Linked DNA regions of Homo sapiens: region 2 is linked to region 1. The links come from fine-mapping of genetic effects on gene expression. A gene starts in region 1. The other region holds a variant in brackets. All regions are shown on one strand. Distances are between the middles of the regions.

Region 1 (5,522 bases):
GTGTTCGACCTGCACACAGGCCATTTTACCACCTTTTGTGTGCGTGCTTGCATGGGGGAATCTGGGCATGCACAGAAAAGATATCTCTCAGCTGAAGGCGGCTGGGAGAGTCTTTTTTCCCCTTGGGGATGCTGAATAAACAGTGTGTTATGTGCCTGTGTTTTGATTGCCACCCACCCCACGAGATCAGGTGTGGAATTTTCCACTTGTGGCGTAATGTCAGAGCTCAAAAAGTTTTGGATTTTGGACCATTTTGGATTTGGGATTTGGAGATCAGGGGTGCTCAATCTGTATGGTACTGTTCATATGAATTTTTTTTTTTTTTTTTTGAGACCGAGTCTCTTTCTGTCGCCCAGGCTAGAGTGCAGTGGTGTGATCTCAGCTCACTGCATCCTCCACCTCCCAGGTTCAAGCGATTCTCATGCCTCAGCCTCCCAAGTAGATGAGATTACAGGTGCGTGCCACCACACCCTGCTAATTTTTGTATTTTTAGTAGAGATGGGGTTTCACCATGTAGGCCAGGCTGGTCTCGAACTCCTGACCTCAAGTGATCTGCCCACCTCAGCCTCCCAAAGTGCTGGGATTACAGTCATGAGCCACCACACCCAGCCTTAATCACATGAATTTTTAAAAATGTAAGCCATCCTGTCCGTTGCACATGGACATACACATGGAAAAGGGGCCTAAGAATGCCTGGGAATGATGAGTACCAGTTTCAAGAAACATTTACCTGCGAGAAAGTGGAAGACGGAGGAAGAGAAAGATGCAAGAATACAAAGGGGCTTCAACTTTATCTGTAATTTTTTTATTCCAAAAAATATCTGAAGCAAACATTGAGCAGACATATTAAGTTTTGACAGGATGAGGCAGTAGGCTCATGGATATCCACTATATTTATTGATTGCTATAGTTCGAAGTATATTTGAAATTTACATTATTTAACAACGTATATATATGTAATGAAATAGAGTTCTTTAAGCATACCAAATTTACAATTTTATTTTCAAATTTTAAAATTTACTTTTGGTCAGAATGCAGTAAAATGGGTACTTTAACACAATCAATGCTAGTTAGAAGGTATATTGATACAAGACTTTTGGAAAGCAAGATAGAAATATTTGTTTAAAAGAGAAAAAGCCTTTAAAAATATTCCCTACCAGTTGACTCAATAGTTCCACTGTAGGAAATCTATTCTAAGCGATCTTAAATTCACAAGATTTTGTAGAAAGACATTTATGACAATGTTATCTTTAATATTAAAATAATAGAGGGGATGTTAAACTATGATAATTTGCAGCCATTAAAAACTTTTACAAAGAGTCTGTAATAATGGAGAAATCTCTACTTCATAAATGTCCATAGAATAAAAAATGCTCTATTGTATACATGCTATGCTTAGCCTGCATTCAATAAACCCTCAATATATTTGAGAATATTAAGGAATATTGTTAATTTTTAAATTTGATCTTATCATCTTGAGATTTATTATTAAGTATTGAGAGAAATTGAATAATGTGGGATTTCCCCAGTTGGAGTAAGGGTGGCTATTCCTGCTTAGAAAAAAAGAATGGACCTTGTGTGGTCACTGCCGGATGGTAGGTTCATTATTCTTTCTACTTTTTTTTTTTAAATTTAAGAGACAGGAACTGGCTGTGTTGCCCAGGCTGGAGTGCAGTGGTGCGATCTCAGCTCACTGCAACCTCAGCCTCCTGGGTTCAAGTGATTCTCCTGCCTCAGCCTCCTGAATAGCTGGGATTACAGGCGCCCGCCACCATGCCCAGCTAATTTTGGTATTTTTAGTAGAGATGGGGTTTCACCATGTTGGCCAGGCTAGTCTCGAATTCCTGACTTCAGGCGATCCACCTGCCTTGGCCTCCGAAAGTGCTTGGATTTCAGGAGTGGCCACCGCGCTCGGCCCTAAATTCTTTTATTTAACTTTTAAGTTCAGGGTTATAAGTGCAGGTTTGTTATAAAGGTAAACCTGTGTCTTGGGGGATTATTGTACAGATTATTTCGTTTTCAAAGAGAATTTGCAAGTATGTCACAAAAGCCTCATAAACACGTTGTGAGATTTTAAGAGGCAATGACCGAGGCTTGGAGATGTCTCGTCCTGTCCAATGTCACCGCTAGACCTGAGAATCTGCACTTGGGAGCTTACAGACCCGGTTCTCAGGCTTCACTTGAGACCCCAAGAAAGAAAAAAACCCACCAGCCAAAGAGGAGGATGGCAGCCTGGAAGAACCTAAGGAAGCGAGGCTCAGAGGTGAAGCACTGTGGCTCCTCTCCCCCTTCTCCCCCCTCCGCCCCCTCTCCTTCTAAGATGAGGCATTTTCTAGGGGAGCAAAGCTGCAGCAGGAATTCGGCGAAGTGGCGGAGCTGGGGCCCCAGCGGGCGCCGGGGGCCGCGGGAGCCAGCAGGTGGCGGGGGCTGCGCTCCGCCCGGGCCAGAGCGCACCAGGCAGGTGCCCGCGCCTCCGCACCGCGGCGACACCTCCGCGGGCACTCACCCAGGCCGGCCGCTCACAACCGAGCGCAGGGCCGCGGAGGGAGACCAGGAAAGCCGAAGGCGGAGCAGCTGGAGGCGACCAGCGCCGGGCGAGGTCAAGTGGATCCGAGCCGCAGAGAGGGCTGGAGAGAGTCTGCTCTCCGATGACTTTGCCCACTCTCTTCGCAGTGGGGACACCGGACCGAGTGCACACTGGAGGTCCCAGAGCACGACGAGCGCGGAGGACCGGGAGGCTCCCGGGCTTGCGTGGGTAAGGTCCTGGGTCCCCACCGGGCACGGCCCATGCGTCCCGGGGACAGGGGTGGCTGTGCGGTGCCGCGGCGGCCGGCGGGGCTCCTTCCCCAGCAGGGGTGGGGACGCTGAGTCACGGATCTGTCACCGCTTTGCACCTCTCCGAGCCCTCGGGGGCCAAAGCAAAAGCGAAAGCGAATGCGACTGGCGGGGCGGCAGGTCCCAGAGCAGCGCTCGCCACCTCCCCCCGGCCTGGGCAGCGCTCGCCCGGGGAGTCCAGCGGTGTCCTGTGGAGCTGCCGCCATGGCCCCGCGGCGGGCGCGCGGCTGCCGGACCCTCGGTCTCCCGGCGCTGCTACTGCTGCTGCTGCTCCGGCCGCCGGCGACGCGGGGTAGGGAGCTGGGAGCAGGGGCGCCCGGGCGGGACTTGGAAGGGGGCCGGGACGTGGAGCTGGAGGGAACCGGGCGCCCCATCTCCCCGGGCCGTGCGGGGGCGTCGGTGCCCTCGGGAGCGCGGTGCGCGCAGGCCCAGGCCGGGGAGGGGACGCGGCGCCGGGCAGGAGGGACACGTGCCGGGAGCCGGGGTCGCAGGGAGAGCGCCGCCGCTGCGCCCGGGTCACCCACGTAAGGGAGCGGGCGGCCTGGCTGGGGTCTCCGAGGCCGAGGTCAGGAGCAGTTCTGAGAAGCCCGTTTTGGCCACGGGAGCGCGGAGCCGGCGGCGTCCAGCAGTTTGGAGACACGGGCGAGTGCGCTTCTCCCAGGCGCCTGGACTGCAGGGCGGGTGTTGCATAGCACGCGGTCCTCGGAGGGGTCCGGGAGAAACTACTCCTCCCGACTCCCAGGCAAAAGTAAATTATGTCAGTGGGAGCTGGGAGGGTGGGGAGGAGCTGTGTCCCAGGGGGAAACGCGTCGGGCAAGTTGCACACCTGGGGACCTGGAAACAACTTCCAATTCTTAAGCGATCAGGAAACCAGCAGAGGCGGTCGGGACCGGATGGGGGTGGGGAGTGGGGGCCAGCCTGGAGTCTACACTCGCAGAAAAAGGGGGAAGAGATCTGTGATCGCTTGGTGTATTCGAGAAGAAAGCGGGTCGCGGAGCTCTGATCTCGGCAGGGAGGACGGAATGAGCGATTCCTAGGGGTTTTGTCCCGGCAGCCAGAGGAAGGAGGAAAACAGTAGCAGGGTCTAGCTCTATCCTTGTCAGCGCTTCTTTATCTTTTTATAGTCAGGGAGCTCTTGGAGGGTCTGATGAAAGCTATGAACCCCCGGCCCCCAGAAAAATGCATGAATGAACATAGTTACAAAATGTGCATATGATTTTGGGGTCAAAGCCCCACTGAAGGCCATCCATGGACTCTCTATAGGAATTAGTAACGCCATGATCTGTGTGTGTTTTTAAGCGAGACCCTGAATAATTTACATCCAGTCGGGCCAGTCTGCCCAGGCCCTGGCCAAAGCCATTCCACGCACAGTTGCTGCTGCCTGGTGTGGCCTGAACGCCCCCCCACCCTCTGCCACCCCCACCCCAGCTCTGCGAGGCTTCTTGAAGTTTCGTTTTCATGAGACTCTGATGCTTGGATTTCCCCCCACATCTGAGAAGCAGAGTTAGTTGGTGACCGGTTGGTTCCTCCCAGTTGGCTAGCAGTGTCACAGGACCCCATAGCTGGCAACTGGGGCAGCTGGATTACACAATATGAAAGTGAAATGCAGCCTTAGTCAAAGCCCAGCAGAGAGGAGGTGTCTTCCTTGAAGACTGAGTGGATAGGGGAGCACCACTGTGAGATCTCTGATCTCATCAGCTGCACAGCCTTGCCCTTTGACCTTAGAAAGATGTTGCTACCTTCCCTTCCCAAAGCTCTCAATGTTTTTTCTTTTTCTTTTTCTTTCTTTCTTGTTTTCTTTTTTGAGACGGAGTCTCACTCTGTCACCCCGGCTGGGGTGCAGTAGCGCGATCTCAGCTCACTGCAACCTCCGCCTCCTGGGTTCAAGCGATTCTGCTGCCTCAGCCTCCTGAGTAGCTGGGATTACAGGCGATCGCCACCACGCCCAGTAACTTTTGTGTTTTTAATAGAGACGGGGTTTCATCATGTTGGTCAGGCTGATCCAACATGGTGATCACTCCTGACCTTGTGATCTGCCCGCCTCGGCCTTCCAAAGTGCTGGGATTACAGGCGTGAGCCAGCTTGCCCAGCCGTTGTTTTTTTTCCCTTTAACAGCCTTATTGAGGTATAATTGACCGACAATAAACTGCATATATTGAAGTTGCACACTTTGATAAGTTTGGAGGTAAATGCATACATACTCATGAAACCACTGCCACCACCAAGAGTGAACACAACTATCACTCCCAAAGACTTCCTCATGCCCTGCACAGTCCTCATCTCCCACCTCGCCCATCTCCCAGGCAATTTGATGCACTTTCTAAAATTTTTTATAAATAGAATTACACGGTAGGAACTCTTTCTTGTTTGGCTTTTTTCACAGACAGTAATTATCCTGAGAATTTATCCATGTTGTAATTTGTATAAGTAGTTCATTAGTTTCTACCATTGAGTAGTAGTATTCTACCCATGGCTAGCCCATCATTTGTTTAGCCATTCACTTGTTAAGGGACATTTGGGTTGTTTCCAGTTTGGGACTATTACAAAGAAAGCTGCTATGAACACTGACATACAGGTTTCTGTATGGACACATGTTTTCATTTCTCATGGGTAGAGAATGGTTGGGAGTAGAGTGGCTGTGTTATATGGCAGGTGTATGTTTAATTTTTTTTTTTTTGAAACAATGT
Region 2 (5,000 bases), 59 kb before region 1:
CCCTAACTTGCCTTCAACTCCTCTACTGCCTTGTAAATGTCCCATGTGTGCTTGAAAAAAGAGTGGGCTCTGCTATTGTTGGAATCAAATTTGTTAATTGTGGTTATCACATTTGATTGTTCTTACTGATTTTCTGTCTGTCCTATCCATCATAAAGGAAGACACTGTTAAAATTTCTCATTATGATAGTAGATTTCTAAATTTATCCTTGTTTTGTCAATATTTGCTTTGTGTATTTTGAAGTTATGTTATTGGGTGCATAGAAGTACGTAAGTGTTATGTTTTCCTGATTCTTGATTTGTATATTTTGAAGTGATGTTTTTGAGTGCATACACATATAGCATTTTTATGTTTTCCTGGTGAATTGAATCTTTAGCAATACGTACTGACTTCTGTATTTCTATTAATGCTTCTGCCTTGAAGTCTGATGTTAATATAACTCCTTGGATTCAATTGTCCATTCTTTTAGTTTCAAACTTTTGGAGCATTTATGCTTTAAGCATGTCTCTTATAAACATCATATAACTGCATATTTTTAAAAATATATGCAGTCCAACATTCTGTAACTGCAGGGTTAATCTATCCACATTGATAATTATTACTGATATAGTTTGATGAATTTCCACTGTCTTATTTTGTTCTTTATTTTTTACCTTCTCTTTCTATGCATTTCCCCCTTCTTTTGATTTAAGTAAGTTTTTATCCTATTTTATTTTCTTCCAATAGCTTGTAAGTTATTCACTTTACTCTGTCATTTTAGATGTAATTTTTAACATCTTAACATGAATCCAGACTTTACAAAGCCTAGATTTAACCAATATCATAGCCTTCCTCTCAAATAATAAATAACCTTAGAACAAATTGCCTCCACAAACCTTTTCTACACAGTTCCCTCCTCTTCCTCCTTGCTTCTTTGTGCGCATTTATGTTTGCTATTTGAAAGAATTTCCTGAAAGTAAAAGTGAGATTTTTTAGAAGGCTGACATGAGGGCAGCAATAGTAGACTTTCACGTGACTCCTGTCCCACCACCTTGAGCTGTGTGGTTTAGCCAACTTACTTAATCTCTCTGAACCTCAATCTCTTGCTTTCTAAAGTGGGGATGACAGTATCTACCTTCCAGAGCCATGGTGAGCATTGAAGGTAATATATGCAAAGAAGCAGCACATAGGCAGGGCTCAGACATCATAGTTATTATTATATAGATAACCCCAAATGGAGGGCCTGGGCCCTCTGACTTCTTCAAAGATAATAATCTGAACTAAACCACAACATCACACAAACACCTCCCAGCACCCAGATAGTTTAGACATAGCTCCACCTCTTTGTAAGAGATAACCTTCAACAGATAGGTGAAAAGCACGCTCCTTCCTGAAGATTATGATTCTGGGTGTTGGAAAAGCACTGAACTAGGAGTCAGGGAACCTGGTGATCTGTTGTAATCCAAGGCTTGCCACAAACTTGTGGAATGACCACAGGCCCAGTGTTCTTATCTATAAAATGTAGAGGTTGGCCTAAATGATCTTTGAGCTCTCTTCTAGTTCTCATATTCTATGATACCATTAAAAGGGATGTTCTACATCCCTTTTGCACCCAAACCACTTACTTTCTATACGGCCTAAACTTCTGGTTTGGGTTTCCCAAGGAAGCGAGAGACAACCTTCAATATTAGGCATATCTTTGGAGTTCTTATTAAACAGTAAACCTCACCTCACTATCAAAGATAGCCTCTGGCTCCAGCGTCCTCTTTCCAGTCTCCCACAGAGATTTCCTCTGGGAGTCAACGAGCTTAAGGTGAAATTTGGCTAGGGGTCTGGGAGGAATTCTTTTCATTTCATATTACAGACAGAGCATTTGAAATGAGAAGGGGCCACAGGGGGGCAGTGAGCGGAACAAGAGGAAGATTCGGGTCTCTGACACCCAGAATCTATCTGATTCTGACACAGAAGATGAACCGCGTTAGAGCAAGAACCAGATCCCTCTTTACCCAGTGGCCCAAGCTCTTGATGCGTACCTGTGTCCCTTGTAAAGCTCAGTGAAATCATCACCTAGACATTTCCTGTGCTCCGTGCGTTATTCTAATCTTCACTGGGTACAAGTAGAGCTTAAAGTTCTGATATATGGACAGGAAAGAGAAGAGGGATGAAGCCTTTATCCAGGGCTGGCTGGGCTAAGAGTAAAACAACTTCACCTGGATTCACCCAAGGGGCAAAGAATCTTATCTCAGACTCGGTCCACATCTTTATCAGCCCCCTTTTCCCTTTATCTTTCATGTTGCTCACATGGGCTCCAGGGGCCAGATGAGTTTTCTCTTACTTTGAACATCAGAGAAAAAAAATAACGACAAAAAGTTACTCAACCGACAAACGTTTCTCACCCACACACCTTTCCTCCAGTCAATGACGTTTCCACTGCACCCTGTTAGACGCTGAGTGAGGAAGCATCTGGGCACAAACCGCTGTGGATGCAGATTGAGCAGCACTCACTGTGCACTGGAGGGATGGGAGTCCTGTCCTCACCCAGGGGGCAGATGGAGAGGGGGCAGAGAGAGCAGCCGGGGCTTCACTCCCTGGAAACTCTCATACTCCAAGTGCGGCCTGGGGCTCTGCAGCCCCAGCATCATGTAGGAGCTTGTTAGAAATAGCCTCAATGTCCACACCTGCCCTGACAAATCCCAGTCTGCAAGATCCCGGGGGCTCTGCACACACGCTGCTGCGAACAACCTCAGCATCCGTCCTGCCGGCTCTAGAGCAGCCAACCGGGATATCCTTCTTCTTCAGCAGTGGTGTCCGCTCTCTAAAATGACTGTCCCCCACATCTCTTTCCAGGGTTGGTATTTCTGGTTAACTCAAGGGACACAAAAATAGCTCAGGGAAAAATTAATTTTCATTCTACTCCAATTCTAATAATGAAGTGGTAAAAATTAAAGGGACAGCTTTCAGATTATGGGAGTGCAGCTGCGGGTATGTGGCAAAATCGAAGAAAGAGGGCTCATAATTCCACGTCAGGGAAGAGC[C/T]GCTGGCCTGCCCAGGCTGCTGTTTATCTTTACTGTGAATGGGGCCTCTTTTTTGTTTGTTTGTTTTGTTTTGTTTTCACTTAACCTCAGTGGCAAGAAAAATGGGGCCTCTTGCCAGGAGGAGCAGAGAGTGACGCGGAAGGCAAAGACCACCTCATTTCACCAAGTTCCTCGTCTTTTATTTGAAATCCAAGACATAGAAGCTGCACATTTGTCCTTCTGGGAAGAGTGACGAGTGACTGAGAGTGGAGTCGAACACTCGAAAGGAGAGAGCAGGTGCCTGGGAGTCAGAAAAGCTGGCTTGAATTCCTAAATCTGTCGCCGTTTGTCCTGGGTGAGGTCATTCTGGTCATCTGTGGCAGGAGGACTACAAATGCCTGGCTTTTCCCTTTCTAGCGGGCACACAAAGAGACAGAGAAGTTGAATCTTTAGCAATCCATTGAAGGGGAAACCCCACAATGCAAAGAGAAGCATTGTCGAGGGCCCTTCACCTGCACCCTCTGTTCTCCCAGACCTGTTCCATGATGCATTCCAGAGGAGGTGGCTCTCCGTCACTGTCACTTGCGATTGCCAAGGCGTCAGCCAGACAAGGCAAAAGCTCCCAAGGGATGTTACCCTTCAGCTGCATACAGAACTCCTAGAGGCAACAAATCCACAAGGAAAGATACACCCATGATCGTGTATTTCAGCCACAATGATGGAGGTGAGGTGGAAAAGGACGAGGAACAAGTGGGATTCTGCCCATGTCTGTCTAATGAGCATCCACAGCAAACTCCAACGGAAGATGTGAAACACGCTCAACACTAGAAGAACTCGGTTTGACTCTGTCTTGGTGTGGGTCCCAGGCCAAAGCCCTCGGCATTTTCAGGATTAATGATCACTGCTGGCTGTCTCTTTTTCCCTCTGCCCACATAAAAGGCACAAAAACTAAAGAGGAAGGCCACATCACCGCAGAGCCCGTGGTTCAGGATTCTCCTCCTGGGAGCCCCGATTTCTTTTCTTTTCTCACCTTAACAGTGTCCAGAGTACTTTTATTGCCAGAATAGAGATATAGCCTGCTCAGAGCCTCATGTGCGGCCCACCACTCAGGAACAAAGGGAGAGACAGATACTAAGCATGTGTGCAACAGAGAAAATCCAGCCCACGAAACCGTGTGCAAGAGCAGCTCCGTCCTGCCTGAATGTGGCTTTGGGAAGCCCACCTAGAACTTGGCCTGGCGCCAGTCACCCACTCAGAGCCTACTGCCATGAAGGCAGGCCCTCACTCTCCATCCCTGCCCACACAGGGAGACCCAGGGCAAACAGAAAGTCCCCTAGCGGGGGCCCAAGGAACCCCTGGCTCTCTCAGGGTCCCATTCAAGTTTCTGGGCTAGTCTTGCAGACTAAATACCACTCAGTTGCCTGGTGGGAGTAGGTGCTGGGCAGGGTGGACAGGAGCCCCACTGCTTCTCAGCCCTGTGCCAACCCCTTTGTGTGAGACCCTAGTGCAGGGTGGGGAGCCCCAATTTCTAAGCCTTGAGTGTTTACCACCCTACACCCCCACCTCCAACTCCCGAATTGATCATCTCAAATTTTCCCACAGTCCATAGGCACCAGACACTTCAAATAATCTCAGAAAAGAAGGTGATGTCTACATCCAGAATCGTGCCAATACTTTAAAATTACAGGGAGAAAAATATTCCCCTTCCCCTCTTCTAAGGAAAATTCTGTCTGCCTCCCAAGCTCCCAGGTCCCTTGGTGTGAGCTGGGGGAGTGCGTAGAGCTAGGAATTGGAAAATATTCCGGGAGAGAATGATTTATGTTGAGAAGACCCATTGGGAGAAGCAGGAAGTGGGTCTGGAAAGACAGGAGGAAGTGTAAAGGCAGAGAAAAGCCCTTGTTAGCTGAATTTTGAGAAGTAATTTTTGGCATTGTTAGTGAGTAAAACTAGAGAATGAGGACAGTTGTATGCTGTCTTAAAAAATAAAAGAATGATAATATAGGGAAA

Evidence for each region. PIP is the estimated chance that this variant, and not a neighbour inherited with it, causes the effect.
Region 2: its variant is the best candidate, but not a certain one, in a credible set for the expression of IL15RA in tibial nerve (GTEx, PIP 0.53).

Annotation. Positions count from the first base shown.
Region 1 is chr10:5,975,010-5,980,531 of GRCh38, reverse strand. IL15RA (interleukin 15 receptor subunit alpha) reads left to right here and starts at 2,989. Exons shown (of 7, transcript NM_002189.4): 1 at 2,989-3,127. The coding sequence starts at 3,040. RefSeq lists silencers at 2,226-2,895, 2,986-3,365 and enhancers at 4,256-4,335, 4,466-4,735.
Region 2 is chr10:6,034,591-6,039,590 of GRCh38, reverse strand. All of the region lies in intron 1 of IL2RA (interleukin 2 receptor subunit alpha), which reads left to right. It overlaps IL2RA-AS1 (IL2RA antisense RNA 1), which reads right to left and starts at 4,181. Exons shown (of 2, transcript XR_001747349.2): 1 at 3,529-4,181; 2 at 3,169-3,406. RefSeq lists a silencer at 1,027-1,086. The variant C/T (reference allele first, on the strand shown) is at 3,015.